Homo sapiens: one gene and its partners. The protein of the gene in region 1 purifies or fractionates together with the protein of each later gene. This does not show direct contact. Each region holds a gene or a part of one and is shown in the gene's direction. Other genes may lie near its edges. The genes, in order: RAB11B, DNPEP, CHML and WDR44.

Evidence for each region.
Region 2: the proteins of RAB11B (region 1) and DNPEP purify together in Homo sapiens (affinity purification with mass spectrometry; 4 studies listed by BioGRID and IntAct, with this or other methods). This does not show direct contact.
Region 3: the proteins of RAB11B (region 1) and CHML purify together in Homo sapiens (affinity purification with mass spectrometry; 4 studies listed by BioGRID and IntAct, with this or other methods). This does not show direct contact.
Region 4: the proteins of RAB11B (region 1) and WDR44 purify together in Homo sapiens (affinity purification with mass spectrometry; 4 studies listed by BioGRID and IntAct, with this or other methods). This does not show direct contact.

The regions. Positions count from the first base shown.
Region 1 is NC_000019.10:8,384,838-8,393,933, forward strand, and holds the start of RAB11B (ras-related protein Rab-11B), read left to right. Parts: upstream 1-5,522; 5' UTR 5,523-5,579; coding exon 5,580-5,619; exon of another isoform or gene 5,620-5,854; intron 5,855-9,096. UniProt on the Homo sapiens protein: The small GTPases Rab are key regulators of intracellular membrane trafficking, from the formation of transport vesicles to their fusion with membranes.
Region 2 is NC_000002.12:219,384,483-219,393,698, reverse strand, and holds the start of DNPEP (aspartyl aminopeptidase), read left to right. Parts: upstream 1-5,786; 5' UTR 5,787-5,904; coding exon 5,905-5,940; exon of another isoform or gene 5,941-6,123; intron 6,124-6,336; exon of another isoform or gene 6,337-6,421; intron 6,422-6,535; coding exon 6,536-6,629; intron 6,630-6,718; coding exon 6,719-6,807; intron 6,808-6,920; coding exon 6,921-7,034; intron 7,035-7,287; coding exon 7,288-7,413; intron 7,414-7,600; coding exon 7,601-7,731; intron 7,732-7,992; coding exon 7,993-8,068; intron 8,069-8,167; coding exon 8,168-8,275; intron 8,276-9,216.
Region 3 is NC_000001.11:241,636,548-241,644,715, reverse strand, and holds the start of CHML (rab proteins geranylgeranyltransferase component A 2), read left to right. Parts: upstream 1-4,346; 5' UTR 4,347-4,461; coding exon of another isoform or gene 4,462-4,834; intron 4,835-8,168. Other genes in the region: OPN3 (opsin-3), read left to right, coding at 4,462-4,834. UniProt on the Homo sapiens protein: Substrate-binding subunit (component A) of the Rab geranylgeranyltransferase (GGTase) complex. Binds unprenylated Rab proteins and presents the substrate peptide to the catalytic component B.
Region 4 is NC_000023.11:118,446,698-118,451,299, forward strand, and holds the end of WDR44 (WD repeat-containing protein 44), read left to right. Parts: intron 1-2,195; coding exon 2,196-2,290; 3' UTR 2,291-3,264; downstream 3,265-4,602. UniProt on the Homo sapiens protein: Downstream effector for Rab11 which regulates Rab11 intracellular membrane trafficking functions such as endocytic recycling, intracellular ciliogenesis and protein export.

The DNA.
Region 1 (9,096 bases):
AAATGGGAAGAAGAGGGGAGAACAGCAGCATAAGTGGCTAGCAGAGGCAGGGAAAGACCAGCAGAAAGGAAAGAGAGAAAGAGACAGGAAGTCAGAGAAAGAGAGAAGAGAGGAAGAAACAGAGAGACAAAGAGAAGGAGACAGAGAGGAAGAGACAGAGACAAAGAAGAAGTCAAAGAGAAAAGGAGATAGAAGTAGTAAAAAAAAAAAAGTGTACCCTAGCGTAAATTTAAAACCTATAATTGATAATTGAAGGTCTTCTCTGTAACCTTATAACACTCCAATACCACCTTGTTGTCAGTGTAAACAAGGGCATAGCCGGAAAGCACTGAGGCCACTGACAACCTGTAGCCTTCCTATCAAAAATCCTTAACCCAGCAGGTTTCCTAACAGGAGATCTAAATCTTAATTAATTACCATACAAAGGTCTGACCAGATCTAGGAGGAACTCCCTTCAGGACAGGATGATAGATGGTTCCTCCCAGGCGATTAAGGGAAAAAGACACAATGGGTATTCAGTAAGTGATAAGGAAACTCTTGTAGATGCAGAGTTAGGAAAATTGCCTAATAATTGGTCTGCTCAAACATGCCAGTTGTTTCCACTCAGCCAAATCTTAAAGTACTTACAGAATCAGGAAGCAGCCATCTATACCAATTCTAAGTTAATATGGACTGAACAAGGTCTTACTAATAGCAAAGAATAATTGAAATCCCAAACTTACAAGGTTTTCAACAAAAGTAAAGTTTGCTAAAAAAGTTAACAGTGTAACATGTATTATCCTAACTTCTAATCTTATGGAAATCAGACCGTATCTGTGCCCCTCAAAGCTCAAGTCTATCAGCGCAGGGCCATACAACTAATATCCCTACTTATAGGGTTAGGAATGGCTACTGCTACAGGAACCGGAATAGCCAGTTTATCCACTTCATTATTCTACTACCATACACCTTCAAAGGATTTCTCAGACAGTTTGTAAGAAATAACAAAATCTATCCTTACTCTACAATCCCAAATATACTCTTTGGCAGCAGCAACTCTCCAAAACCACTGAGGCCTAGACCTCCTCACTGCTGAGAAAGGAGGACTCTGCACCTTCTTAGGGGAAGAGTGTTGTTTTTACACTAAACAGTCAGGGATAGCACGAGATGCCACCTGGCATTTACAGGAAAAGGCTTCTGAAATCAGACAATGCCTTTCGAACTCTAATACCAACCTCTGGAGTTGGGCAACATGGCTTCTCCCCTAGGTCCTGTGGCAGCCATCTTGCTCTTACTCACCTTTGGGCCCTGCATTTTTAACCTTCTTGTCAAATTTGTTTCTTCTAGAATCGAGGCCATCAAGCTACAGATGGTCTTAAAAATGGAACCCCAAATGAGTTCAACTAACAACTTCTACTGAGGACCCCTGGACCGACCCACTGGCCCTTCCACTGGCCTAAAGAGTTCCCCTCTGGAGGACACTACAATTGCAGGGCCCCTTCTTCCAGCAGGAAGTAGCTAGAGTGGTCATCGGCCAAATTCCCAACAGCAGTTGGGGTGTTCTGTTTAGAGGGGTGATTGAGAGGTGAAGCCGGCTGGGCTTCTTGGTTGAGTAGGGACTTGGAGAACTTTTCTGTCTAGCTAAAGGATTGCAAATGCACCAATCAGCGCTCTGTGTCTAGCTAAAGGTTTGTAAATGCACCAATCAGCGCTCTGTGTCTAACTAATCGCGTAGGGGACTTAGAGAACTTTCCTGTCTAGCTAAAGGATTGTAAATGCACCAATCAGCACTCTGTGTCTAGCTAAAGGTTTGTAAATGCACCAATCAGCACTCTGTCAAAACGGACCAATCAGCACTCTGTAAAACGGACCAATCAGCACTCTGTAAAGTGGACCAATCAGCTCTCTGTAAAATGGACCAATCAGCAGGATGTAGGTGGGGCCAAATAAGGGAATAAAAGCAGGACACCGCAGCCAGCAGCGGCAACGTGCTTGGGTCCCCTTCCATGCTGTGGAAACTTTGTTCTTTCACTCTTCCCAGTAAATCCTGCTGCTGCTCACTCTTTGGGTGCGCACTGCCTTTATGAGCTGTAACACTCACCGCAAAGGTCTGCAGTTTCACTCCTGAAGTCAGCGAGACCAAAAGCCCACCAGAAGCAAGAAACTCTAGACATGTCTGAATATCAGAAGGAACAAACTCTGGACACACCATCTTTCAGAACCGTAACACTCACCGGAGGGTCTGTGGCTTCATTCTTGGAGTCAGCAAGACCAAGAACCCACCAATCTGGACACAGGATGTGTTATACAAAACTTATAGGAGGCTATTACTTTGGACTGACTTCCTACACCAGGCCCAACAAACTAAACCAAAATGGAGTCACTCATGCTAAAGTTTTACGTGATCAAAAAGAAACTAAGTTGTTTATCTGACCTTCTACAAAATCAGGAGAGAGAGAGATGGGATAGCCAAGTCTCCCACCAGGTCAGTTTTAGCCATCATGATAAGGATGTCCTCTCTGCTTTAACCTTTACAAGAAAAGTAACTTTGGGCTGAGTGCGGTGGTGGCTCATGCCTGTAATCCCAGCACTTTGGGAGGCCAAGGCAGGAGGATTGCTTGAGTTCAGGAGTTCAAATCCAGCCTGGCCAACAAGGCAAGACCCTGTCTCTGGAAAAAAAAAATTAGCTGGGCATGGTGGCACACACCTGTGATCCTAGCTCCTCAGGAGGCTGAGGTGGGAAGATTGCTTGATCCCAGGAAGTTGAGGTTGCAGTGAGCTATGATCGCACCACTGCACTCCAGCCTGGGTGACAGAGCAAGACTCAGACTCCAAAAGGAAACTTTAAAATGACCAATCCAAGTTTTCTTTTCTTTTTTTCTTTTTTTTTGAGTCGGAGTTTTGCTCTGCTCTCCCAGGCTGGAGTGCAATGGTGTGATCTTCGCTCACTGCAACCTCCGCCTCCCTGGTTCAAGTGATTCTCCTGCCTCAACCTCCTGAGTAGCTGGGATTACAGGCACCTGCCACCGCGCCCGGCTAATATTTTTGTATTGTTAGTAGAGATAGGGTTTCATCATCATTATCATGTTGGTCAAGCTGGTCTCGAACTCCTGACCTCGGGTGATCTGCCTGCCTCGGCCTCCAAAGTGCTGGGATTACAGGCATGAGCCACTGCACCTGACCTCCACGTTTTATTTTCTGTTTGTGCTTTACTTGGCCCTTTTTCTGCCTGTAAAACCAACCTACCTGCTCAGCTCATGGGAAAATTAGTTTCATTTTGTGAAATGAAGTGTTGCCCGATTGTAGAATTGCAAATAAAATCAATTAAGATCTTTAAACTAAATGTGTTGTAATTTTGTTTTTTTGACAGATGCCCAATGAACACCCTGGGAATGAGATCCAAGAGGCGATAATGGCATCTGCTCTAATAACTAGTACATTGACTCTAGGCTTAGATTATTCACCACTGAATAAATAAACGTATTTATTCAGCAGTGGGGAACTTACAGCAATGATGGGGACAGATACAGTCCCTGATGTCATCAGGCTGATATGCTGCTGACAGAGGACAAAAAACAAACAGATCAATGGGTCAGGAAAGCAAGGCTTTTTTTTTTTTGAGACAGGGTCTTGCTCTGTTACCCAAGCTGGAGTGCAGTGGGGTGATCATGGCTCACTGCAGCCTCGATTTCCCAGGCTCGAATGATCCTCCCGCCTTGGCCTCCCAAGTATCTGGGACCCTGGCATGATGCACCACATCTGGCTAATTTTTGTTGTTGTTCTTTTCTTTTTTTTCCTTTTCTCTTTTTTTTCCTTTTTTTCTTTTTTTTTTTTTTTTTTTGAGAGACTGGGTTTTGACATGTTGCCTAGGCTGGTCTCTAGCTCCTGGCCTCAAGTGATCCTCCCACCTCAGCCTCCTCAAAGGGCATGTTTTTAGGCATAAGCCACCGCAGCCAGCCAAAACAAACAAACAAAAAGTAACGTATACTTTGTGTTAATAATTTTGCATAGTATATTGAAAATTTGCCAAGAAAGTACATTTTAGATACTCTCACTACACACACAGTTAATTATGGAAGGCAATGGATAGGTTAATTGCTTAACTCTCATAATTGGCCATGTGTGGTGAAAATGCCTGTAATCCCAGCACTTTGGGAGGCCAAGGTGGGCGAATCACCTGAGGTCAGGAGTTCGAGATCAGCCTGACCAACATGGAGAAACCCCGTCTCTACTAAAAATACAAAAAAATTAGCCAAGCATGGTGGTGCATGCCTGTAATCCCAGCTATTCGGGAGGCTGAGGCATGAGAATCGCTTGAACCCGGGAGGCAGAGGCTGCAGTGAGCCGAGAGCACACCATTGCACTTCAGCCTGGGCAACGACAGCAAAACTCCGTCTCAAAAAAAAAAAAAAAAACTGTCATAATTATTATTTCACTGGGTACATGTGTATCAAAACACACGCTGTACACCCTAAATATATAAAACAAACACATACTGTATTGTCAGGTAGTGATAAATCCTATCACTACCTGACAATACAGCAGTATGTGTTTTATTTTCTATATTACCTATTTTTATATTTTACCTATGTGGCAAAATATAGGACAAAAGAGGGGTAGTGGTAGGAGGTCCTGTTGGAGAGCATTGGTATCCAGTAAGGATTTAAAAGTATTTATTTAACAAAGAATAGCAGAAAGTGGACGGTTGATTCACACTTGGTGCAATCTCGGCTCACTGCAACCTCCACCTCCCAGGTTCAAGCGATTCTCCTGCCTCAACCTCCTGAGTAGCTGGGTTTACAGGCACCAGCGACCACGCCCGACTAATTTTTGTATTTTTAGTAGAAACGGGGTTTCACCATGTTGGTCAGGCTGGTCTCGAACTCCTGACCTCGTGATCCGCCAGCCTCGGCCTCCCAAAGTCCTGGAATTACAGGCGTGAGCCACCGCGCCTGGCTGATCTGGTTATTTTCAAAAGATTCCATGAGACGGGTTTCTTCAGTTTACAGAGGAGGAAACTGAGGCACAGAAGGATAACCCAGTGAGTCCCAATATAGAGATGGAGACTGCAACCGAGAAAGGGGACCCAGCGCTGAGGTCCCCGGAAATGGTCATTTATGGGCTTGGGGGGCGACCAGGGCAGCGCGCGCTGACCTATGACGTCATCGGGACGTTAAGCATCGTAGCATTACCTGGACGTAGCCCCATTTCTCTTCCCGGACAGGTCCTCTGATAGTCGGGTAGGTTCTCAATCAAGCCTCTCATTAGTTATTTGGTCTGTCAATCCATTTCATTCCTGCAGTCTTCCGCCCCGCCCTCTTGAGCTCGCCCCTGATAGGCTGGCGCGTCCGTCACTTCAAAAAGGTCCGCATTCCTTCCGCCTTTCTCCAGGACACCGAGGGCGAGGAGGGTGGTACCAAGCGGCGCCCACCCTCAGAGCACTACTTCCATCTCTGATTGGCTTCGCTGGGTGCCCGTCGCTACTCCACTCGCCGCTGATAGGCCATTCAACCGCCGCTCTGCGCGGCGCCGGCTCCGCCCCCGTCGGGTGTTTGTGGTGGGGCTGCGGAGTCGCCGATCCCGCCGGAAGCGCCAGGACAATGGGGACCCGGGACGACGAGTACGACTACCTATTCAAAGGTGCGGCCGGTGGGGCACAGACGGGCGAAGTCGTGGCGGCGAGGCGGCGGGCAGACGGGCCAAGGCCGCGCTCCAGGCCGCTGGGCCCAGGCCGGAGCCCGGGGCTTGGGGCCCGGCGGGTCAGGCAGCCGGGAAGGCCGGAGCCGACCGGGCAGCATCAGCTTCGGGCTAGGATGCGCGGCTATACGGAGCCGGAGGCCCGGAGAGACCTGGGGGACCTAGGACGCGCCGGGGCGGGGCCAGAGCCTAGAGGGGGTGGGGCCCGGAGCGGTGGGAGAGGCTGTTAGGGCGGGGCCTCCGCAGGGGGTGGAGCTTTCCCAAGATTTGGCGGGCCGGGCTGGGCTGAAAGCGTGATTCGGGATGGGGGCGGGGTTTTTAGGGGCGGGGCTAAGGCGTGATGGGCGTGACCAATAGGTGGGTTGGGCCTGGGCAAACGGAGGCGGGGCTCTCACGAGGCTTGTCCTGATTGGGGCAGCGTGTTTGGGGGTGGGGCCCGGGAGAGGCGGGGCAGGCAATGGGGGCTGGGCCGAGATGAGGGCCTGGGGGTGAGGTGTGTGGTGGTGGGAGCCTTGGATTGGGGTGCAAAGCTGGGATTGAGTGGAAAGGCACCCGTGTGTGCAGCAAGAATTCCATCTCTTCACTCAGAACTCTCAACAGTGCTAAGCCAGTACTTGCACTTTTCTGAGCACTTTACCCGAATTAACTAAAATCCTCACTGCAGCCCTTTGAGGTTGATACTAACCAGCCTCTCTTTTTACACGTTGGGAAACTGAGGCCCAGAGTGACAAAGACACAGTTTATAAGTGTTGGAACCCGATTGAGCCCAGGCCACCTGTAGGCCTTACCACTTAGGAAGCGTGTCTTAGGGGGCTTGTGGCCAGCATCTGGGACTTTGGGTTGTTGGACCAACTTCTTCCAACACGTGCGCACTGATGGCCGGGGCCCCAGCCAGCCTGCTGGAGGGTCTTCCCCGCCCGAGGGACTGAGGGGGCTCTAGGAGCATCACATAAGGCCTAGGTAGATCAGGCAGCCATTGCCCATTTAGGGACAGCTGGAGGAAGCCGGAGTCCCTTGTTTCTCAGCTGAGCCTTCTGTGCCCAGCTACACTTTGGCCTAGTGGTCTGCCCTGGTTGCTGGGCTCCCTGGCTGACAATGGCAGCCCTTGAGGGCTAACCCCTGGATCCAAGGTGCCTTCACCCTGCGGCCTGCTCTATGAGGGCCTGCGTCGCACATCAGCTGTTGGTATCCTCACCTCGCTGAGCCGTTCCTCCGAGTGTGCTCTGTGGCTTGCACCAGGCCTAGCTGGGCCTTGTGTCTGGTCTCATCCAGCGTCTTCTGATTGTGGGGAATGAGGCAGAGGTCTCCCCACCTGGGCTGTCCGTGTGGCGAAAGCCTTCCGGGGGGAGGGAGAGGAAGTGCCTCTACAAGGGCCTAGAGTCGTCCTGTGGCACTGAGGGCTCTGGCAGCTGCACACAGGTTGATAATGTCACTGGTGGGTGAGGCTCTGTGGTCAGCAGGTGCCCGGCCCAAGGTCTCGCCCCTCGTGGCAGGAGGAAGCTTTGGAAGGGTTTTGGAGACTGGGATTCTAAGGGGCCGTCTGGAGACAGGGGGACTAAACTTTGGGTCCTGCTGATCGGGTGCCATCTCCACTCAGCCCACCGTGAGGCAGCTGCTCCCAGGTCCTGGCTGGGCACCCACCCAGACGTGGCACTGCCAGGGCAGGGGTGTTGCTCCCCACATGCCCCATCCAGGTTTCTGTGGTTATCCCCTGCTTGTTATTTTTGCCCTTTTGCTGTGTTAAATGACCCAGCTCCGAGTGCTTGCTCAAGTCATGGTTTTGCCCTTTAGATTATTTCCTTGAAGTGCGTTCCCAGCAGAACAGTTACTGGGTCAGGAGCAATGGAGAGGCTGTGTGGTTCCCGGGACTTGTCTGCAGAGACTGCTTCCTGGAAACACTGATTTAGCTTCTGCGGCATCTGGCATTTGGCGGGCAGGCGGTGTGGGGTGGGGGGGGGCGGTGCCTGCCCTGCTGCCCTCCCCACACTGGCCTCCTTTTACTGAGTCTAGCAGGTGCCCTGCTGACCTTCTCAAGCTAGTTGGTAGCAAAAATCTAACCCACAAGTTCAGCTTTTCCCAAACTGGTCATCTGCCGTCTCACCTTCACAGCTGTGCCTCATCAGAGGACCTCCTCTATTCTCTTTCAATATTTTTCTTTTCCTTTTTCTTTTCTTTTTTTTTTTTTTTTTTTTTTGAGACAGAATTTTACTCTAGTCACCCAGCCTGGAGTGCAGTGGCGCAATCTCGGCTCACTGCAGCCTCCGTCTCCCGGGTTCAAACGATTCTCCTGCCTCAGCCTCCCGAGTAGCTGGGATTACAAGCACCCACCACACCCGGCTAATTTTTGTATTTTAGTAGATACGGGGTTTCACCATGTTGGCCAGCTGATCTTGAACTCCTGACCTCAGGTGATCCACCTGTCTCGGCCTCCCAAAGTGCTGGGATTACAGGCATGAGCCACCGTGCCTGGCCTCTGCATTTTTTTTTTTTTTTTTGGTGGCCACATCACGCACTGGCTCCCTTGACTTCAGCGGCCAAGGCCAGCAGATCCCCCGGGTGATGCCCCGTGTGCCATTTGTTTTCCTTCGTGAATGTTCTTTCCTTCCCCCAGGAATGACACTGTTGATTTGTACCTAATTATAGAGCCTCACATTTATCCTCCTAACATTTTCTCCTTTAGCCATGGGCCATTTTCATAGCCTGCCACTAATTGCCGTGGGACCCCAGATTTCTTTTCTGATGGACTCGGTACTCCATGGTTGCAGCTGTGTCCCCAAGGGCCACTGAGGTCCTCTCAGAGCCCTTCCCCTACCCTAGAGGCCCTGGCCAATCAGGGCTCACCTGGCCCTGGAGGACATGGGTCGTGGGGGAAACGGGCCGCAGCTGCCCCAGGCCCTGTCCTCTGGGTCTTGTCCACCCCTCCCCTGCCCAAGGACAAGGTGGCCCCTGTCCCCAGGGAAGGGGCCTGCCTGGTGCTTCCCTTTCTGTGCTGAGGCTCCTGAGGCAGCTCCCAGCCCTCAAGCCTGGGCAGACCTCACAGTGGGCCTGCTGTTCCAGTTGCTGTTTGGGGACCCAAACATACCATCTTCCCCATTTAGAATGGGGGTCCCTCCAGTGCCCTGGCTCTGTACACCTCCCCATAGAAGAGCTGAGACAAGAGTGGCCCCCAGTGCCGGTCCCTGGGGCCTAGGATGCTTAGGACCAGCTTCCAGGGGAGGGATGGGGGCACTGCTTGGCTCCGCCAGGCTCTGCCGGAATGGGGGCACCATTCCCCTGAAGAGTCTCTCAGTCTGCCTGAGCATTAGGGTCTGGGCCCCCAGGGCCACCACACTGTCATGGGGCAGGCCAGGGCACCTAGGACTTCTCAGAGGTGCCAGTTCTTTGTTTTTGCCAACCGGGCTTGCCTGCTCTGTCAGCCAA
Region 2 (9,216 bases), on another chromosome or scaffold:
TGGATGAAACTCTCCTCCAGGAAAGCAAAGAAGCAAATGGCCCAGGAGATGCAATAGGACCTCTGGGCAGTACAAAGAACACACTTAGGTTAGTGGTTGAGTTTAAAGCAAGCTTGTCCAGCTGGGTGTGGTGGCTCACACCTGTAATCCCAGCACTTTGGGAGGCCAAGGCAGATGGATCACTTGAGGTCAGGAGGTCGAGACCAGCCTGGCCAACATGGTGAAACCCTGTCTCTACTAAAAATACAGAAATTAGCCAGGCATGGTGGCTCATGCTTGTAATCACAGCTACTTGAGAGGCTGAGGCAGAAGAATCGCTTGAACCCAGGAGGCAGAGGTTGTGGTGAACTGAGATCATGCCACTGCACTCCAGCCTGGGCAACAGAGCAAGACTCTGTCTCAAAAAAACTAAAAAAAAAAGTAAGCTTGTCCAACCCACCACCTATGGACCACATGCAGCCCAGGACAGCTTTGAATGCAGCCCAACACATATTTGTAAACTTTCTTAAAACATTATGAGATTTTTTTGAAAGGTTTTTAGCTCATCAGTTATTGTTAGGGTTCGTGTATTTTATTTGTGGCCCAAGACTATTCTACTTCTTCCAATGTGGCCCAGGGAAGCCAAAAGACCGGACACCACTGGTTTAAAGTGAGACCAGGCAGCGCGGCTTGGATGTTTCTCCAGCCACACAGGTTGGAGCAGGGGAGGAGCTGGTTGCAGTCAGGGTTGGGGTTTTGCCAGGCAAGTCCGCAAATCTAGAGCAGGAACTTGAAGGTGTGTGCGAGGGAGTGAGCACAACAGTGGAATGTATGGCTCATCCTAGGTAGGAGAGTCATGAAGACAGGAGTGAGGAATAGGGAAAGGTAGGATCAATAGTTTGTAGTTCTAGGCTGGACGCGGTGGTTCACACGTGTAATCCCAGCACTTTGGGAGGCCAAGGTGGGTGGATCACCTGAGGTCAGGAGTTCAAGACCAGCCTGGCCAACATGGTGAAACCCTGTCTCTACTAAAAATACAAAAAATGAGCCAGGCATGGTGATGCGTGCTTGTAATCCCAGCTACTCAGGAGGCTGAGGCAGGAGAATCTCTGGAACCCAGGAAATGAAGGTTGCAGTAAGCCAAAATAGCGCCACTGCACTCCAGCCTGGACAACAGAGTGAGACTCCATCTCAAAAAAAAAAATTTAACTGGGTGTGGTAGAGGGCACCTATAATCCCAGCTACATGGGAGGCTGAGGCAGGAGAATCACTTGAACCCAGGAGGCGGAGATTGCAGTGAGCTGAGATGGTTGCCACTGCCCTCTAGCTTGGGCAACAGAGCGAGACTCCGTCTCAATAAAAAAAAAAAAAAAAGACATATGTATCTTATAAACTCACACTGAAGTGTATGTAACTGACTTCTATGTTCACGCAAAAGTATTTGCACTTTAATATGTGTTAAACCAAAAAGATGAATGAATAATGGTAGCATTGTAAACATCAGCCGAGATCTTCCAGGGAAGATTTTCTCAGAAGGCCAAGGGCAAGAACGATTCTCAGAAACTTTTTCTTTCTTGATCCCTAGTCATCCCTTGACTTTGCCACCTGAACTCCAAATCCATCACCATTCCCTTACCCAGAGGTGACCATTATCCTTCCAAACCTGTTTCTATCCATTTACATATGTATTTATATAACATCTAGAAATATAAATTTAGCTCATTGTGTGAGTTTTATCTAAAGGCCCTCACCTTACATTCTAGAAATTGCTTTTTTTTTTCACTCAACAGTATATTTGGAATTCTTTTCTGTAACAATTCCTAAAGACTGACCTTTTTTTTTTTTTTATGAACTGCTACACAGCACTTTAAAATACTGTGTCTCAAGCATTCAAATCATCTAGGAATCTTGTTAACATGCAGATGCTGATTCTATAACTCTAGGGTAAGCCCTGAGGTTCTGCATTTCTAAAAAGCTCCCAGATGTTATTGACATTGCTGGTCAACAGATCACACATTTAGTAGCAAAGATGTACAGTACGGGTGGAATAGTGTGCTGGGGCCAACTTGGACAAGCTCATGAGAACTGATTGTCAAATTTCCAGGAATTTGGTGAGCTTGTTGTTAAACACAGCAATCATTAAAAAAAACTAAATTATATACACTTACAATTAAATAAATTATATTACAGATAATGAAAACCAAAAATCCATCACCTTTCCAAACATTTTACTGCCTTCTTAAATCTATGCTGTTGATGTTATTTCTATCCATTGTGTCTGCATGGTGGAAATCTACATAATGGCATGCTTCCGCACAGCTCTTCCCAACTCCCTTCAGTGACATCATCTCGACAGCTTGAAATCGGCCACGGGGAACATTTACACCACAGAAATTTGGGTATAAAGGTCTGTGCAAACATACCCCCAAAGTTCAGGGAAGCTGAAAAGCCGACGAAAGAGGCTGACATATACAGTCTCTCAGAAAGAAACATTTCATAGGGACTTATGAATAGAGGCCATAGTTTCAGAGATGAAATGGTGGATTACCCTGCAAACCCAGGGCTTACATACCATAGGGAAACAATGTGTCAAACAATTGAAGTTGACCCCTCAGGCAAAGTCATGAATGCTATGTGAATCTGTCTAAGCGCAGGATTTATGGTAATAGTAGGTAAAGTAGAAAACTTAGAGTCATTCCTGGAACAGGTTGTTGAAAAGTCAACATGGCAGATTAGCTTCCCAGATGGAGTTGCTTTAGCCTCCAGAAAATGCTTGCATTACCCCAAGCCTTCTCCAACACTTGATATTACCCATCTTTTCCATTTTTGTTAATCTGCTCAATAAAAAGAAAAAGTATCTCATTTTTATTATTTATTAATTTTTTTTTTGAGTTGGAGTCTCGCACTTGTTGCCTGGGCTGGAGTGCAATGGCACGATCTCGGCTCACTGCAACCTCTGCCTCCCGGGTTCAAGCAGTTCTCCTGCCTCAGTCTCCTGAGTAGCTGGGATTACAAGTGCACACCACCATGTCCAGCTAATTTTTTGTATTTTTAGCCAGGCTAGTCTCAAACTCCTGACCTCGTGATCCACCCGCCTTTGCCTCCCAAAGTGCTGGGATTACAGGCATGAGCCACCACGCCCAACTGTTATCTCATTTTTAACTTGCATTTTCCTGTTTAAAGTGAGATTAGGTGTCTCATATGTTCATGACTAGAAATTTAACAATATTTCTTGCTCTTGTAAATATAGCCCTTTTACTTTTTTCTTTTTTACCCAAACCAAAAATGGTCAATAAGAACCTTTTTACTTTTATATTTTCTAGGTGATTATTGTACAAGAAAGTCAGTGTTTTTTAAATTAGGCTACCCTTCCTACCAGTTCTAATAATAGCTTGATCGTTTATTTTCTTGGGGATTCTAGATAATCATATAATCTATAAATAATGACCAATTTTACTTTTGCACATATAGAATTGTTAATTTTGTTTTGTGGTACTGGCTCTGACTACAGCTCCACATTGTCTAGCAGCAGTAATAGCTCATCAATGTCTCACTTCTGATTTGAATAGGAACACTTCTGTATTTCCCTCCCAAAATGCTGGGATGACAGGCGTGAGCCACCACTCCCGGCTCACTTTCTAAGTTATGCATTTTGGTGATGTTTGAATCTCTTACTCAAGCATGTACTCTTTTCTGTGATCAGAAAGAACATTAAAGGTGGTTCCTTATTCAGGTTGTCTCCTTCCCTTATACATTGTAGCCTTGTTTCGGCCCTTTCACTGTCCTCCTTGAATGTGTCCCCTCCCCAGGAGGTAGAGGACAAGAATGCTCTCTCCATGTCCTGCTCAGCATTGAGCTTTATACATAATTTTATTTATTTATTTATTGAGACAGAATCTCACTCTGTCGCCCAGGCTGGAGTGCAGTGGCACGATCTCAGCTCACTGCAACCTCCACCTCCCGGGTTCAAGCGATTCTCTTGCCTCAGCCTCCCAAGTAGCTGCTGGGATTACAGGCACGTGCCACTACACCCGGCTAATTTTTGTATTTTTTGTAGAGACGGGGTTTCACCATGTTGGTCAGACTGGTCACGAACTCCTGACCTCAAGTGATCTACCCGCCTCGGCCTCCCAAAGTGCTGGGATTACAGGCGTGAGCCACTGCGCCAGGCCCATAATGGTATTTCAACAAACGGTTAGGGAATGCCATGAATTTAAGCCAGCACCTAGTGGGTGAATTCTTGAAAACTCCCCTGCCATATCTACTAGTTTGAAGTGAGGGCTGCAGGACCTTTCCAGCCTCTCCCCATCCCACCCTGTCACTCCCCACCCCAGGTATATAAACGGCAGGTTGCTCCATAAACCTGTGATCTCTGGAATTTTGTTTGAACCCCTGGTAGCTGGGCCCTGTTTTGGATCTAGAGGCCACCAAGAGTCCTGATCAGTTCCTGCAGCTAGGAAGGTGCATGGGGTTTAAACGTGCTACTCACTACTCCTGACATGGGAATACTGGAACTGCCAATAATGTGGAATTTGTTTTTCTGTTGTTTTTAACAAATGGAAAGGGCACAGATATCAGAGTCAAATCCCAGATCCACCCAAACAGCTATGTGATCTTGGGCAAGTCAACTTCTGTGTCCCTTGTGGACCTCCCGTGTAACATAACACTTACCAAAGCGCATAGAAAAAGGTCCAGAAAAGATCTGAGAGAAGGCTGTAGGGTTGTTCCAGGCCTCTGCAATCAAACTGATGGAGTTCAAACCCCACCTGTGCCGTTTATTACCTCGACGGATCACTAGTCTCCGTATCTCAGCTTTCTCTGTTCATGCATAAACTGGGGACAGTAAGAGTACATAGTTGATGGGGCAGTTGTGAAGATTAAACGAGGTAACAGGCCAATCTTTATCATAAAGCTAAAGCTCACCGTGAGCGCCCCATGGACATTAGCCTTATTGCTTTTATTGTCACAAAGGTGGCTGTGGCGAGAGACAGCACTTTGTACCGTACCCGTCGGACCCGGTGAGCTGGAGGGGCGAGCTTTTTATTGGCCTCGAGGCCCGGGGCACGGGGAGGCGGGCCGTCCGCGGCTGTCCTAGCACCTCCGCGGCAGCAGAGGGCCCTGGCGGCGGCTGCGGGTCGCGCGGCGTGGGTGACGGGGGTGCAGGGCGGGGCCTAACGAGCAGCCCCCGCAGGGGCGGAGACGAGGGCGGGCCGGAGGCGGAGGCGCGGCCTGGAGAGGGATGGGGCGGAAGCGGGGCGGGCGGTGCAGCCTAGCGAGGGGCGGGGCGGACGAGGAAGCGTGACGAGCGGCGGGGCGGGTGGAGCAGCCTGGCGAGGAGCGGGGCGGGGTGGGCGGCACGGCCTGACAAGGGGCGGGGAGCGCAAGGAGGCCTGACGAAGGGCGGGGCGGAGCAAGGGCGGGGGCAGGGCGAGTAGTGGGGTACAGCGAGGGCCGGAGCGGATGGGGGAAACCTGGTGAGGGGCGGGACAAAGCGGGGAGGGCGGTGCAGCCTGGCGAGAGGCGGGGCGGACGAGGAAGCTTGACGAGGGGCGGGGCGGGCGGTGCAGCCCTGCGAGGGGCAGGGCGGGCGGTGCTTCCTGGCGAGGGGCGGGGCGGGGCGGGCGGTGCGGCCAAGCTAGGGGCGGGGCAAGGGCGGGGCAAGGCGGGTGGTGGTGCCCAGCGAGGGGCGGAGCGGACAGGGTAAGCCCGCCGAGGGGCGGGGCTGACCGAGGTGGGCGGGGCGGATGCCGAGGGGCGGGGAGAGGTGGGCGGGGAGGCCAAACATGGGGCGGGGCGGCGCGGCCGGGGAAGCGTGATGAAGGCCTACGAGTGCGGCGCGGCCTGAAGGGGCACGCGGGGGACCTGCAAAGCTAGTGAGGGGCGGGGCAGGCGGCGCGGTGGGGGCGGGCCGAGCCCGGAGGCCAGATGAGCGGACACAGCCCCACGCGCGGGGCCATGCAGGTAAGTGGCTCCCGACGGCCCCACTTGAATTTCGATCCCAGACCGGGTCCGGCGCCCTCCGGGGCCCAAGCTTAGCGCGGTGCTGCAGTGGGGCCGCCTGACCCAAAGCGAAACCGAAAGCCCCGCGGAGGGTGACCTGACGACTTTCCCGGGACTGGAAGGGGGAGTCCTGCGAGAGACTAGGTGGGTGCGAGAGAGGAGTCAGGGTGCTCCTTGGGGTACAGGGCTTTGGCTCCGGGCTGGGTACGCGCACGTGATGCAGGCCGCCTCAGAGTATGGGGCCCGCTTGGGATCCCGGAGTTTGGGAGCAGAACAGGATTTCCTAGCTGGGCAGGGACATGGGGGCGGGACTTAGGGAGTCGGGCTAAAGTTCGGATTAAGGGGCGGGCCTGGCTCATGATCCTGGGCCGGCGGGCTGAAGCTTTCAACGGAGTTTCAGCCCTGGGTTTGGGTCTCTCGGTGGGGACGGGCGGAAGCAGAGGTCTGTGCCTTAGAGTGGTCACTTCTGGGGGTGGGGATGGGAGAATCCTCGGAACCTGGGTGAAAGGTCAGGGGTCCCAGACCTTGTAAAAGTCTGAGCATCCCCCTCCCCTAGGTGGCCATGAACGGTAAGGCCCGCAAAGAGGCGGTGCAGACTGCGGCTAAGGAACTCCTCAAGTTCGTGAACCGGAGTCCCTCTCCTTTCCATGGTAAGCGGTGGCCAGGGCAAGGGAGGAGGGTGGAGGCTGATGCGCCCTTCACCAGCTTCCATCGCTGTGAGAGGGTGCTTTTCCCACAGCTGTGGCTGAATGCCGCAACCGCCTTCTCCAGGCTGGCTTCAGTGAACTCAAGGAGACTGAGAAATGGAATATTAAGCCCGAGAGCAAGGTACTGGGGGTGGGGTGGGGGTGGAAAGGCAGGTCCCTAGGCTGGTCTCCAAGCCCTGTGTGCCAGCTGAGTAATGCAACTCACACCCCTGTCTTTCCTCCCCTTCTCCTCAGTACTTCATGACCAGGAACTCCTCCACCATCATAGCTTTTGCTGTAGGGGGCCAGTACGTTCCTGGCAATGGCTTCAGCCTCATCGGGGCCCACACGGACAGCCCCTGCCTCCGGGTAAGGAACTCGGACGGTGTTGGGGTGGGAGGAGATGTCAGAGGGAGTACAGGGCAAAAGAGAACTAGGAGGTACAAACTGGGGCCTCTATCCCCTGGAGTAAGGGAGAAGGTAAACTTGTTGGCCCCTTCCTTCACACCTTGAGCCTTTCATGTGACACTAATATTCGCTGTCTGTTACTTATGAGTAGCCAAAGTCTCATCTCCACATATCGTCATGAAGCCTTCTCTGACTTCTCCATCTTTACACTCAGGTGAAACGTCGGTCTCGCCGCAGCCAGGTGGGCTTCCAGCAAGTCGGTGTGGAGACCTATGGTGGTGGGATCTGGAGCACCTGGTTTGACCGTGACCTGACTCTGGCTGGACGCGTCATTGTCAAGGTGGGAACCGAGGTTGGGGATGGCGGAGCCTCCTCAGAAGACTGACTGCCACACTCCTCAGGGTACCCGTGGGGAAGAGGGGTGGGGGCAGTCTGGTCAGAGGACCACCCTGCTTAGTCTGAGTGAAGTAAAGACTGACCACTGGGGTAGGAGGCACCCTGGGCTGACCTGGCCTGGCTGGCTGCAGTGCCCTACCTCAGGTCGGCTGGAGCAGCAGCTGGTGCACGTGGAGCGGCCCATTCTTCGCATCCCACACCTGGCCATCCATCTGCAGCGAAATATCAACGAGAACTTTGGGCCCAACACAGAGATGCATCTGTGAGACTGGGGCAGGGCTGCGGTGGCTGGGAGGGATGGAGAATGGTACCAGGTGATTATTACCTAATGGTAGCCATTAGGTCACATTTTACTCTTGGGACCCAGTTAATTTCTAAGGGTCCTCACAGCCTTGTGATTTGGGGAGTGGGCTGGGAATTGAAGGGCAGAGGCAGTTGCCCATCAGGAGGCACCTGAACTTATGGATGCCGCACTCAGCTGTGCCCTCCTCGCAATCCCCCCACAACCCACGTCTCCCCACAGAGTCCCCATTCTTGCCACAGCCATCCAGGAGGAGCTGGAGAAGGGGACTCCTGAGCCAGGGCCTCTCAATGCTGTGGTAAGAGAGTCTCCTGATCATGGGGAGGGCGGCAGAGTCCCCTGAGAAGTGGGGAGGAGAGGAGGAATGGACTCTTCCCAGCATCTTTCTGCTCTTCAGGATGAGCGGCACCATTCGGTCCTCATGTCCCTGCTCTGTGCCCATCTGGGGCTGAGCCCCAAGGACATAGTGGAGATGGAGCTCTGCCTTGCAGACACCCAGCCTGCGGTGAGGACTGGCTGTAGGAACCTGTGGGTGAAGGGCCTCCAGGATCCTGGCCACCCCTAGCCCGTCCTGCTGAAGCACCCATCACCTCCACCAAGCCCTCAGTAACTCTCATCCCCGTTTTTCCCAGTAGACACATCCCCCACTGCTTCTAGGGCGGTGGTTCTCAAAAAGACAAGTTCCCTACCCCAGACCTGCCCACTAGGACTATCTGGGAATTGGCCCTTTTTACAGATTCCCAAAGAGTTTCTTCTACAGGTGGGCCCTGTCTGCTTTGACCCACACTGACACTGAACTGCTTAGGGAAAGAGGCCTGGATGTGGCCATCTGTTCTCTGTCTCCCGGTTGCTGATGGTCAGAGATTGCTAAATCTTTGGATGCTGTGTCCTGCTTGAACACGTACTAAGTTTCTGTTTTTTGGCTGGTTTCCTCTGTTTACTTCTTTGGCCTTTTTGATGACAATTCAGCCCTTCCTTTTCTTGACCCACAGGAAGAGGTCAAGAGCTATTGGCCTCCACCCTTTTGTTCCTCAGCACCAACCCAGCCCCCTTCTCCAATCTCTGCTTGGTCCTGCCTAGCAAGGAATCCCAGCACTTTGGGAGGCTGAGGCGGGGGGAATCACATGAGGTCAGGAGTTCGAGACTAGCCTGACCACCATGGTGAAACCCTGTCTCTAATAAAAATACAAAAATTAGCTGGGCCTGGTGGTGCATGCCTGTAATCCCAGCTACTCAGGAGGCTGAGGCACGAGAATCCTTTGAACCCGGGAGGCGGAAGTTGCAGTGAGCCGAGATCGAGCCATTGCACTTCAGACTGGGCGACAAGAGCGAACCTTCATCTCAAAAAAAAGAAAAAACAAAATAGTGCCCTAAGCCAGGGGTCAGGGAGAGGTTGCGCAAGAAACCAAGGAGACCCTTGGGAGCAAAAGAAAGGTGAGTGGGGGT
Region 3 (8,168 bases), on another chromosome or scaffold:
CTATTTTGAATAATCCTATTATGAACATAAGTATACAAATACCTGTTTGAGTCCCTGCTTTCAATTCTTTTGTGTATATACCTAGGAATAGGATTGCTAGATCATATGGCAATTTTTTTTGTTTTGAGACAGGGTCTCACTCTCTTGCCCAGGGTGGAGCGCAGTGACACGATCACAGCTCACTGCAACCTCAAACTCCTGGGCTCAAGGGATCCTTCTGCCTCAGCCTCCTGAATAGTTGGGTGAGACTACAGGTATGTGCCACCACACCCAGCTAATTTTTTATTTTTTTCTGAAGAGATGGGGTCTTACTATGTTGCCCAGGCTGGTCATTGTACTCTTGGCCTCAAGTGATCATCCTGCTTAAGCTTCCCAAAGCACTGGGATTACAGGAATGAGCTCACAATAATTCTATGTTTAACTTTTTGTGGAACTACCAAATTGTCTTCCACAGGAGCCACACCATTTCACATTCCCATCAGCAGTACGACAGGGTTCTAATTTCTACACATCTCCACACAAAAACCAACACTTGTTTTTGTGTTTTGTTTTGTTTTTTGATGATAGCCCTTCTAGTAGGTGTGAAGTGGTATGTCATTGTGGCTTTGATTTGCATTTCCCTAATGACTAATCACAGTAAGTTTCCTTCCATGTGCTTTTAGGCCATTAGTATATTTTTGGAGTAATGTCTACTCAGATCCTTTGCCTATTTCTGAATTGGGTTGTGTGGAGTTTTTTGTTGTTGAGTTGTAGGGGGTCTTTATAATATTGATGCCTTATCAGATATATGACTTGCAAGTATTTCTCCCATTTGCTGTGCTGTCTTTTCACTCTTTTGATAGTGCCCTTTGATGCATAACAGTTTTTAATTTTGATAAAGTCCAATTTAGCTATTTTTCTCCTGTTGCCTGTGCTTTTGGTGTCATACCCAAGAAGTTTTCTTCTAAAAGTTTTATAGTTTTAGCTTTTACATATAGGTCTCCAATCAATTTTGAGTTAATTTTTATATATGATATAATGTAAGGCTCCAACTTCATTCATTTGCACATGGATATGCAGTTTTCCCAGCATCATTTGTTGAAAAGACTGTCCTTTCCTCCTTTCCCCATTGAATGGCCTTGGCATCCTTGTCAAAAATCAATGGACCATATATGTAAGAGTTTATATCTTGGCTCTCTATTCTATTCCATTGGTCTACATGTTTGTCCTTATGCTGTGTATTAGGCTGTTCTTGCACTGCTGTAAATACCTGAGACTGGGTAATTTATAAAGAAAAGCGATTTAATTGGCTCACAGTTCTGCAGGCTGTACAGGAAGCATGGTGTTGGCATCTACTCAGCTTCTGGGGAGGCCTCAGGGAGCTTTTACTCATGGTGGAAGGCAAAGTGAGAGCAGGCATCTCACATGGCGACAACCAGATAGGGAGAGAGAGAGAGAGAGAGTGGGATGGCGGAGTTGCCACACACTTTTAGATGACCAGAGCTCACTTATCACAAAGGGGATGGCCCAGGCCATTCATGAGGGATCCGCCCCCTATGACCAAAACACCTACCACTAGGACCCACCTCTAATATTGGGGATTATATTTCAACATGAGATTTGGGTGGGGACAAACATCCAAACTATATCATGCTGGTGTTTTTCATTTGTTTGTTTTTTGTTTTTTTTTTTAATAAAAGATTGTAGTGTTCTGCCATTATCCTGTCATTACATAATTCTAAAATTAAAAAAGAAACATATATCCTTATCATTGCCTGTTTCTGTCAAGCTCAATAAATGTCCTTAATGGTTCATAGTATTGTAAAATTACTGTGTCAAAAATGCTTAAGCATTTGTCAAAGGCCTCTTACTCCTCCTTTGCATTCACTGCTAGTAGGCATTGCCCTGGACTTTACTCTGATTGAGTAAAAGCCAAAGTCCTTTTATTGAAATGGCCAAGGTCCTGCATATTCTGGCCATTCACTGCACACCCACCTGACTGGCTGCATTTCCCGATTCTCATTCTTGCTTCCTTATTGTTCCTCCAACATACCAATACAGTACTCCTGCCCATAACCACCTTGTCTAAATAACAACCTTGACAGAGCAGGTGCATCACCATCATGGACAAGCACTGCCATTTTAAAGTTCCCCTTGATCAAAAACCACCTAAATCCAAACAGCATCAGCCTAATGGCTAAGGTCAGCATGACCATACACCACAAATGACATCTCCGACCAGAAACATTCCAACCCTAAGATAAACCCCTCCCTGACCAGAGACATGCGAGCCCCGAGATAACCTCCCCTCCGACAGAGACATTCCAACTTGGCAATAAACTTCTTCTCCAAACAGAAACATTCCACGCCTGTGATAAGCTCTCTCACTCTAAAATCCTTAAATACTCTTAGTCTGTAAGAGAGTGCTCCTGACCGAAATCGGCCAGAAGCCCCTCTTAGGTTTATTCTTCCAAATAACACTGTCTGACTGTTGAGCTGCTATTAGTGTTTCTTTCCTCTTTCTTTAACTCTTACAAACTCCTTGCCCCATCTCCCATAGCTCCTGGCTCAACCTCCTGAGTAGCTGGGACCACAGACATGTACCATCTTGCCTGGCTAATTTTCTATTTTTTGAAGAGTTAGGGGGCAGTTCTCACTTTGTTGCCCAGGCTGGTCTTGAACTCCTGGGCTTAAGAAATCCTACTGCCTCGGCCTCCCAAAGTGCTGGGGTTACAGGAATGAGCCACCACGCCTGACCCCTATTTCTTCATGGCATTTGTCAGTGGCTGACACCCTACGTATTTATCTAATTTTTGTTTGTTCTCCCAACACGACTGGAATGTGAGCTTTATAAGGGCAATGACTCAGCAATGAAGAATGAATAGGAAAAAATATAGCGAGTTCTTTATTCATTCATTCAAATTACTATTTATTGAGAACTTACTGTAGACTAGACACAGAAAACACTTTCGACATTAAACATATAGAACTTGTTAAATAGTTATGTTTTGTTCAGTGGTTGTACAAATCTAAAATTAACAATTAAAAGTGTGTGTGTGTTTTTTAAGGGGTGGGTGGGTAGGAAGTCTCACAGATGGCGAGTCCAGAGCAGAAGCCTTGAAGGAAAATCAAGGTGTCAAAGGCAGAGCACACTGCCCCTTAGCTATTGCTCAGTGCACCAGGGTGGAGAGCTGCTGCCAGCCTATTAGATCCTCTCTCCAGGGAATTCAGAATGTGGATTGATCCAAGCTAGTCATTCCCTACTGATCTTTCAAACAGAGGTGAGGCACGCCCGTATGGAGAGCAGTTTCTTTAGCTTGCACAAACCCTGTGTTCGTCACCAGTGTCCAGGACAGGCTGCAGGTGTGGCTGGGGACTGTGATCTTCTTGTAGGGCCTCCTTAGGGATTGTGCAACCACAAAGGCAGAAGCAGCTCTTGCAGAGTGTGATGACGTTCACAACCTATATTTGACTTGTACTATATTCTCATCACTACAGGAGAAGAGGCCCAATGGGAAATGTGTGCTGTTCTAAATATAGCACCTGCCTCCTATACCTGCTAGATTTAGGTTGAATCTTTCACTGCCTGTGAAGGACTTTAGCAGGCCTCAGTGACCGGAAAGATCTACCCACGCTTTCAAGCACAGGAAGGACGGTATTGGAAGGCCTTGGGGTCCAGCCCAGGGCTTAAAGTCAGTTCCATTGGAATGCCATTTTCAGAGAGTTTTCATCCCAGACTCTCCAAGGGTGGCAGGCTCTTGTATCAGCCCTGGGACATGTGTCCTCTAGCAGTCAGGTAGTTAGGCAGGCACCTGTCTATCAATTTGTTGTTTTTCTTCTCAGTTTTCCGGTAAGACTACCCCGAGCTCTTCAATGTTTTCTTTGCTTTTGTTTACATTGAGTGTATGACGCGGGATGGGCTTCGTAGGCTGGTTGTGGGTTATTACAGCTTCCCAGGAAGGGGAGAAACCCAATTCTTGCCAGCACGTGGTGGGCGCAGGCGCTCATAAATACTTAGGAATAAATGAATGTATAAGTGAGTGCATGAATGGGTGAGTGGACACGAAGCTTTCAAGGTGGGTGCAGGGAGGTGGGGGTGTGAAGAGCCATCGAGGCTACCCTGCGGCCCTGGCCCCCAGGCTATCCCGCGACGCGCGTCCACGCCGACCAGCGGAAGGTGCCCAGCCAGTGGGGGCGGGGCGAGCTAGCCGCGAGGACGCGCCCGCGGGGGGGCGGGGCTAAGAGGACGCGCCGGGAGCAGCGGAGCGACGAGGACAGGCCGCGGGGAGGGGCGGGGCCACGGGGGGTGCGCCGGGCGGAAGGGGCGGGAAGAGGGCGGGCCCGGCGCGCGGTAGCGCGGGCCCCTCAGTGCACAATGGCTAGAGCAGGCGGCGGAGCCCCAACCCCACCCAGTGCGGAGCGCGCCGCGAGCCCCGCCGCAAGCTGAGCGCCTCCGCCCGCCAGGCGCGCCGGCGCCGGGCCATGTACTCGGGGAACCGCAGCGGCGGCCACGGCTACTGGGACGGCGGCGGGGCCGCGGGCGCTGAGGGGCCGGCGCCGGCGGGGACACTGAGCCCCGCGCCCCTCTTCAGCCCCGGCACCTACGAGCGCCTGGCGCTGCTGCTGGGCTCCATTGGGCTGCTGGGCGTCGGCAACAACCTGCTGGTGCTCGTCCTCTACTACAAGTTCCAGCGGCTCCGCACTCCCACTCACCTCCTCCTGGTCAACATCAGCCTCAGCGACCTGCTGGTGTCCCTCTTCGGGGTCACCTTTACCTTCGTGTCCTGCCTGAGGAACGGCTGGGTGTGGGACACCGTGGGCTGCGTGTGGGACGGGTTTAGCGGCAGCCTCTTCGGTGAGTTGGACTGGGAGAAGGCAGCCTCCCCTCTGCAAACTTCCACTCCCCACCCCGCTGCCCGCTCCGTGCGTCCGCCCCCCAGCCCGCCCCGCACCGCTTCCCGCTCGGCCCCGCGCCCCCCGCCCTACACCGCCCCGCTCCCCGCTCGCCTCCTCAACGCTGCCCGACCCCAGCCGCATGGCGGGTGCCTTCCTCTTCCTCCGTCCCCTCCCGCCCCACGCTGTCCAGGACTCCATTCCTGTGGTCTCTCATCTGCCCCCCACGTTGACCCCAAACCCCGGCCCGCCTCCTTTCTTATTTGTTTTTACCTCCTAAGATCACTCAACAAGGCACGAAACCACGGCTTTTTACACTTTGAGGAAAGAGACGAGGGCCTGTAGAGTCAAGAGATTCAAGAAAAAAAGTGATTAACTCGTGAAAGTTGGAGGGAGTGATGAGATTAGATTCATGTACTACTATTTGTTTCCTAAAATGAGAGTAGAAAACCAAAATAACAATGTGTAAAAAAAAATTCTCATTAGTACTTGTAAACCTTTGAATGCTTTCTAGGGAATGAGACAGTTTCATTCAGGTCCTCAGAATGCAAATTGGCATGTGCCCTGTAAGCTGTTTTTACTATTTTCCGTCTTATAGATGGGTTCCAGCACACCAGAATCTTGGGTGAGATTACAAATGGCTCAGCCAATACCATCTCAGGTGAACAAATACTGTAATTAGCTCTGCAATCGGTAGATTTCATTAAAGTAGAACTTCATTGTTGAAGATGTATTTCGACAGTACTCTTATTATGGAAGATTTAAGTTTCACTGAGACATGATGTTTTGAAGGATGATCAACAACTCAGCAAATCATTGAAGGAAGCGTAGAAAGGAAATTATTTTTTTGTGTGCCTCAGGAATTTCATTTGTAGGGAGATTTGAAATAGAAATGTGTATTTCTCAAGGCTTAAAGTTCCTTTTTTAAATCCTGAAATCCATTGATACTTTATTGCTTTAATCTTGGTAGGTTTGGGAGAACAAAAATCTTTGTAGAATTATCAAAAATATTTTCTTATTCAGTAACCTCTATGCTATGACAAACCCAAATATTATATTTGTAATGATTCATTTTTTGGCGTTTTGAAGGAAATAAGAAAATAGATTTTATTTGATTGCTTCAGAGGTTATAATATTTTCCTCCCCGCCCCTCATAAGCTTTAATCTGATAATTTCATTTGAACAAACATTTGAAATTTAGGGAGGGGACTGCAAGTGTATGTAGGCTGTGGTATGGACGACTATGGGATTACACTCCTTATATTAATTGTAAAATACCTATCAGGCAGTTTCTTCGGCAATGCTAAGAAGGTTATTCAAGCCCAAGCCTAAAGTATCATCAGTAGTGTTCTCCAGGGTAGTCAACAGGTGTTTGTTCACAGACATCAAAGTTCTTTTTTCCTTGAAGTGCCTTTTCTGTGCTGGAAAATTCTGTTTTCGTGCCCGGGAGTTTGAACACAAGGGTGTACTGAGTTCTTTATAAGTGCTAGCTGTCATCCACCCTCTTCCTCACCTCTTTCCTCTGCTGATCCCACCCTCCTGTGTCTCCTGGTCACTTCTCCCTTCCTGTTTTTCTTCTTCACCATCCCTCCTAGGGTCCCAGCCCAGTGATTTTCTAAGTTCACTTAGATTTTTGCCTGAGGGCTGCCCTATTTTTCAGGGCATTTAGTGCTTTCAACCATGACTTTCTCCCTGTTTTTAATGTAGAGGTGGAAACCCTGAGATAAGAGATTCCGAGACTTAAGCCCTGGGGGGCAAGTTAGTAGTGAAGTTACTATAGAGTTTAAAAAGTTTTTAGCGAAGATGATTTCTTTGCCTGGAGTAAATTCCGGAGTTTGTGCTTCTAGATCCAGGTTAAGGATGAAGAAAAGGAGGGCACTTCCTGAGTTATCCCTGAGCAAGAACTACCTAACAGTGGAGTATTGAAGGGGAGGAAGTTAAAAATGAGGGAAGTAGCTTCTTGATGCAGAGGCTTTTGGAGAGGCTTGCCCTATCTGTTGGAAAGACCATTGGTCTGATGGCACAAGAGTGGATCCTGTTCCTTATCCTGCGACTCATGCATTGTGCGGGCTTTCTCAAGTCACTTAATCTCTCCAGCTATCAGTTCTCTCATCTCTATTATTGGGTAATTCAGCTTAATGCTCTGTAAGGCCATCCTACTTGCTTTGCATTTTGATGACCCCTTTGATATCTGTAGGTTAGAACGTGCCTGATCTTAGCGCTTATTGATTGTGTCTTCTGCTCCTACTCCTACCCTGAGCCCTGTCTTTCTAAGCCAAGAAGCAGCATGTACTATGGTTACACCTCTTCAGATACCATCATAGATTCAGTCTCCATCTTCACACCCTGCTGGAAGAAGCAGAATAAGTAATTCAGACATACTTATATTTATACTTGAGTGGGCCAGGCAACTGCTGCATTCTGTACTTAGTTCCTGGCTTCTTAGGGAATGCCAAAAATGAGTGGAATCCTTGATATTTTTGAGACAGAGGCTTTGACTAGACAGGACTGTTAGGATTGCCATTTTAGTTAAACTAAAGGTGTGTGCCCTATGCAATTTAATCTAAGTTCCAATTGAATGGCTTGTTTTTCCAGTATCCAGGATTATTAGTCATCTTGGGCTAGACAGGTACAGCTTGTACTGATTTATATTTCAGTAGGTTTAACAGTAGTGAAAACCAGAGCTCAAAACTGTGCAATGATGAATATTAGAAAGTTTAGCAGTATTGTTGCTTTAGCCTAAAGACTTTCAGGTGAGTATGCTCTTCAGCACCTTGGCCTTTCTACCTCTGGCCACACAGGGCATCACACAGATGTCTTCCGCACATGGAATGTAACCAGCATTATGCTCAAAGTTAACAGGAGAACCTTATTATTTTTTTTTTTTTAAACTTCCCCTTCAAAAATAAGAACAAACAGTGTTAGTCTTGGCAGAGGATGTTTAGATAGACCTTTTGCTTGGGATGCAGAGATTCAGGGTTGCAGAGACAGTGGCGAAATGCAAACATCACTGTATTCAAATGTTAGAAGTAGGTATTATTTATGTTAAGATATTTTAATATGAAATCAGAAGTTTTCCTTTTTTACTTACACTTACACACTTTTTTCCTTTATTACTTATATGCATGTGTACATTCATATAATATTTTTAATACATTTTCCTCCTCAGGGCTATTATGAGCCTAAATATTTTTAAATGGCCAGTTGTTTTACTGAATTAATCCTTTTGTAATAATCTGACTAGTAATTGAGTAGAAATAGTCTCATGTTGCTACCATGAGATCCTAAGGGTGGTT
Region 4 (4,602 bases), on another chromosome or scaffold:
GCATTTCTTTCAGTACAAGATACAAAAATAAACCAAGTTAGAATGATTAAACCTTTACTAAATGCCTGTTTAACTGCTGTCTGTTTTCTTTTTCTTTCCTTCTCAGAATCACATCCAGCTTCTGTCTTCTAACTTAAGTCATTTACGTTTTTTCTTTTTTTTTTTAACTTATGAATGAATGAATGAATGAATGACATGGTGTCGCTCTGTTGCCCTGGCTAGAGTGCAGTGGTACAATCATAGCTCACTGCAACGTTGAACTCCTGTGCTCAAGCAATCTTCCTGCCTCAGCATCCCGAGTAGCTAGGACTACACGTACTACCATGCCTGGCTAATTTTTTTTTTTTTTTTCTTTTTGCTAGCAATGAGTTCTCGTTATGTTGCCCAGGCTGGTCTCGAACTTCTAGCCTCAAAAAGGTTAGTCCTACTTTGGCCAAAGTACTGGGATTACAGGCATGAGACATCATACCTGGCCTTTTTTTCTTTTCTTTTCTTTTTTCCCCAGTGCTACCTTTTTACATTCCATATACTTCCCCTGCATATTCCACAGGAAATTCTAGCTTTTAAAACAATTTGAGGAAAAGTAAAAAGTACAGGGTTTTTTTTAACTTCTCAAAAATATACCACATTAACAAGGTTCAGTTAACTAACTGGGTCCTTTTTTAAGAGGCACAAATTTTAGTGGATTGTACTCAGATTTGTGTTTGTCATTTTGTACCCATGTAGGTGTAGTCTAAGAATAAGCTCTCTTAAACCCAAAATGTGGGATCACAAAATATATTCAATTCCCCTCTCTCTTTGTTCCTGACGTGTTTGGCAATTCAAGCCTCAATTTTCCTTATGTGTAAAATAATGATGATAACCTAGTTTATAGAGTTTCAATAAGAATTAGATATGACATGTATAGGCTGGGCATGGTGGCTCATGCCTGTAACCCCAACATTTTGGGAGGCCAAGGCAGGAGGATCACTTGAGACCAGGAGTTTGAGACCAGCCTGGACAACATAGCAAGACCCTGTCTTCACAAAAAATTAAATAATTAGTCGGGCACAGTGGCGCATGCCTGTAGGGAGGCTGAGGTGGAAGGATCCTTTGAGCCCAGGAGTATGAGGTTACAAGAAAGCTATGATGGTGCCACTGCATTCCAGCCTGTGCAACAGAGTGAGACTCTATCTAAAATATATATATATATATATATATATATATATATATATATACTTGTATGTGTAAAAGTGCCTAGCAAAATGCCTGGCATGTAGTAGGCATTATTGTTATCATTTTCATTATTATTGTGTCTTACAAAGCATTTTATATGTATGGTGAATTATTTTCTTCTCTATCCTTTCTCATATTCCTAAGTTCTTTGCTGCTGCTACTACTGCACAGCACTGCTGTGAGATATGCCAAAAGGGTGGTAAAGGAATGTTCAAAGGCTTAGGATATGTTTTTAGCACATCTAAGTGAAACCATTTTGTGTGACTCATCCTGTCCACAACTTTCCAATTAAAGTTTGGATTATTTTCTTCTTTTTTAAATCTCAAATTAAAATCTCAGTTTTCACCTATGTATAATAGAGTTAGTTAACACTGAATTTTTTTATTAAGTGCTTTTATGCAACTGGCAAATGTAAGAGGTAAGCATTTATGCCATTCAGCATAGTTATATAGCTTTTCAGTAAGGACCATATGGCAAAAGGTGCTGTCAGCATTCACACAGCAAACGTGTGTACTTCATTTCATGGCAGTTTCAGTATGTCTGCTATACAATAAACCTTACTGGCAACCTCGCTAGACACCCCTGTTAGCAACAGACTTGCCCAGCTGATCCGATTCTGCCAGCACTCCAGTCCTGGGGCTGAATGACACACTAGCTTCTTGCCATGCAATGAAGCATTAGATGACTTAGATGCCTAGGCTGCCTAGGAATAGGTCCAAGCATCCAGGCCCCAAGAGACTGTAATATCCTCAAGCCAGGGAAAGACCAGCTAAGACAAGGTAAGTGAAAGTGAGCCTCAGAGCAGAGGAGAGATTCAGCAGAATGAAAGAATTACAGGAGCCAGCCAGAAAAGGAGACTGAAAAGGTGGGGAGATGATCTTCTCCCCTGAAGCTGGAGGGTCATGGGCATGTGATAATTGTGGCAGCAGGCTTCATATTCCTTTAAAAATCAACTTAAAACTATTTTTTATACTTTTAAGGTATTATGAAGACAGATAACACAGAAGTTCTTCTCTCTGCTGACTTCACTGGAGCAATCAAAGTGTTTGTTAATAAAAGAAAAAATGTATCTTAATTTGAAATGGCATTTAAAATAAACATATCAGTAAGTTTCTATATGTATCAAAACTGAAAAAATAGTGTTCCAGGCTAACATACTTTTTTAATTTTTATTGAAAGTTGTTCAAATATAATATATTTTTTGAGAGGCAGTGTTAATGATCTAGGAAACCCTGGGCTGATAGAGTAGAAAGGAATATGGCTAGAATAACATTGCCAAACATTAGGCTTTATGTTTTGTTATGTTTGTGTTTTCGTTGTATAATTATGAACATGCACAAGTTTCTGCATGAAAAGATATTAATATATTAATCACATGTATGTGCCTTTTGGTTACATGCATTAAATCTAACAGAGTTAAATTATTTCAGTGGCTCTTTTGGCCTCTTACTAGGGGGGATAGTCTTGTTTCTAGCTTAAACAATTTTTTTTTTGCACAAAATTTCATTTTTAATAAAAGTGGTATCTTTTGACTGAGTTATTGTTTTGAAAATGGTATATAGGTTTCCAGTAGGTCAACAACCATATGTAAATGGTTTTTATAAATTTCTCAATTTGGGGACAAGATTTTTTTGTGGTCTAAATTGTGGGCTTAAGATTCTTTTCTTTATATGTGTACATATAATTTTTTTTTCTTTGCCACACTGGAGCACAATGTTTCTATGTAAAGAATTATTTTCATTCTTTATCCATGAGCACCAGGCTTTGCTCACTTAAAAAAAAATTAAGCCACATTAAGGAGTGAGTCTTCTTTTTTACAATAATGTAAAAATTAAACTGTTTACATTTTTTTAAAGCATTGTAGTTTTTAAAAATTAAGCTGTTTTGTTTTGTGTTGTTGAATTTGAAAGCCTTTGTAAATATCAATATAATGTACCAATGAAATAACATCTGGGGCAATGAAACCCTGATCATGTTGTTGATGGTTAGCATATGTTTCTGAAAATTAAATATGTATTATTAAAAGTTGGTCTCCAACACTTGTTTAAACATGACTTTATTTTTAATTGACTTCAGTAAATCAAGGAATGCAAGAAAAATAAACTCTTGTTTTAATCATTTAAATTTTAGCAACAGAAGACCAGATTTTAGATCCCTAAATTATAATGCATTAGTTACATGCCTTAAAATTTTTTTAATTCTAGCTTTAAATTGAACAGTGCTAAGAATTCATCTATATGCTTATATGTTCTTTACTGCATTTGTTTTCAGCATGTAAGTGAGAAGTTGGGGAGCCACGGACATATCCTTGTTGATTAGCACGGTCTTAGAGTGTTCTAGGCTTTCTAGTAAATTACATATTATTTGTTGCTTTCTTCTTGCCAGTGCTGTGCTTTCTCCCTCTACCCTTCCCCCTCCCCTCTCCTCATCTCTCTGGTTGCTTTGGCTTCCTCACTCTCCTGTACTCTCCCTGACTGAATTGTTATGCCATTGGCTTTCTAAAAACCAGGCACAGTTTCTTTAATCTCAAGGTCTGGGTGGCATTGTGATTGATCCAGTGTTTCTTTTTAAAACTTGATGTCTTCAGCTCTTTGAGGCAGCTTGGCTTTCACTAACTTCTGCCTGAGAACTTGTAGTCGGCTGTGGTGTTGATTGTTTTAACTGCAGATAATCAGGGTATTATTATATGACTATCTCGTGATAGGTTTTATGTGGTTACTTGACCAAAAAGACAAAACGAGTTGGGATGCAAGCTTAAAAGCATAATACTGGCCGGGCGTGGTGGCTCATGCCTATAACCCCAGCACTTTGGGAGGCCAAGATCACCTGAGGTCAGGAGTTCAAGACCAGCCTGGCCAACATGGTGAAACCCCATCTCTACTAAGAATACAAAAAATTAGCTGGGCGTGGTGGCGGGCACCTGTAATCCCAGCTACTCAGGAGGCTGAGGCAGGATAATCGCTTGGACCCAGGAGGCGGAGGTTGCGATGAGCCAAGATCGCACCATTGCACTCCAGCCTGGGCAACAAGAGCAAAACTCTGTCTCAAAAAAAAAAAAGCATAATACTGACACTTGTTATTGCTATATGAATACACTGAATTTAAAAGGTAGCATCAAAATATATAGAAAAAAAGAACACTATTTCTCTTTAAAATGAGTTTTAGATATTCTCTATAACGAGTGATATGGTATTATTAAAAAAAAAAAGATCACAGGTTCTAGAGTCAGGTAAACTTGGATTTGCTTCCTTCCCGTTAGCACATTCCTTGGGCAAGTTATTTATCCTACATTACTACTACTTCCTTATCTGTAATATGGGAATACCTAACTTAAATTGCAAAGATTTGCTAAGAAATCATGTATGTGTAAAGCTTGGTGCCTAACCA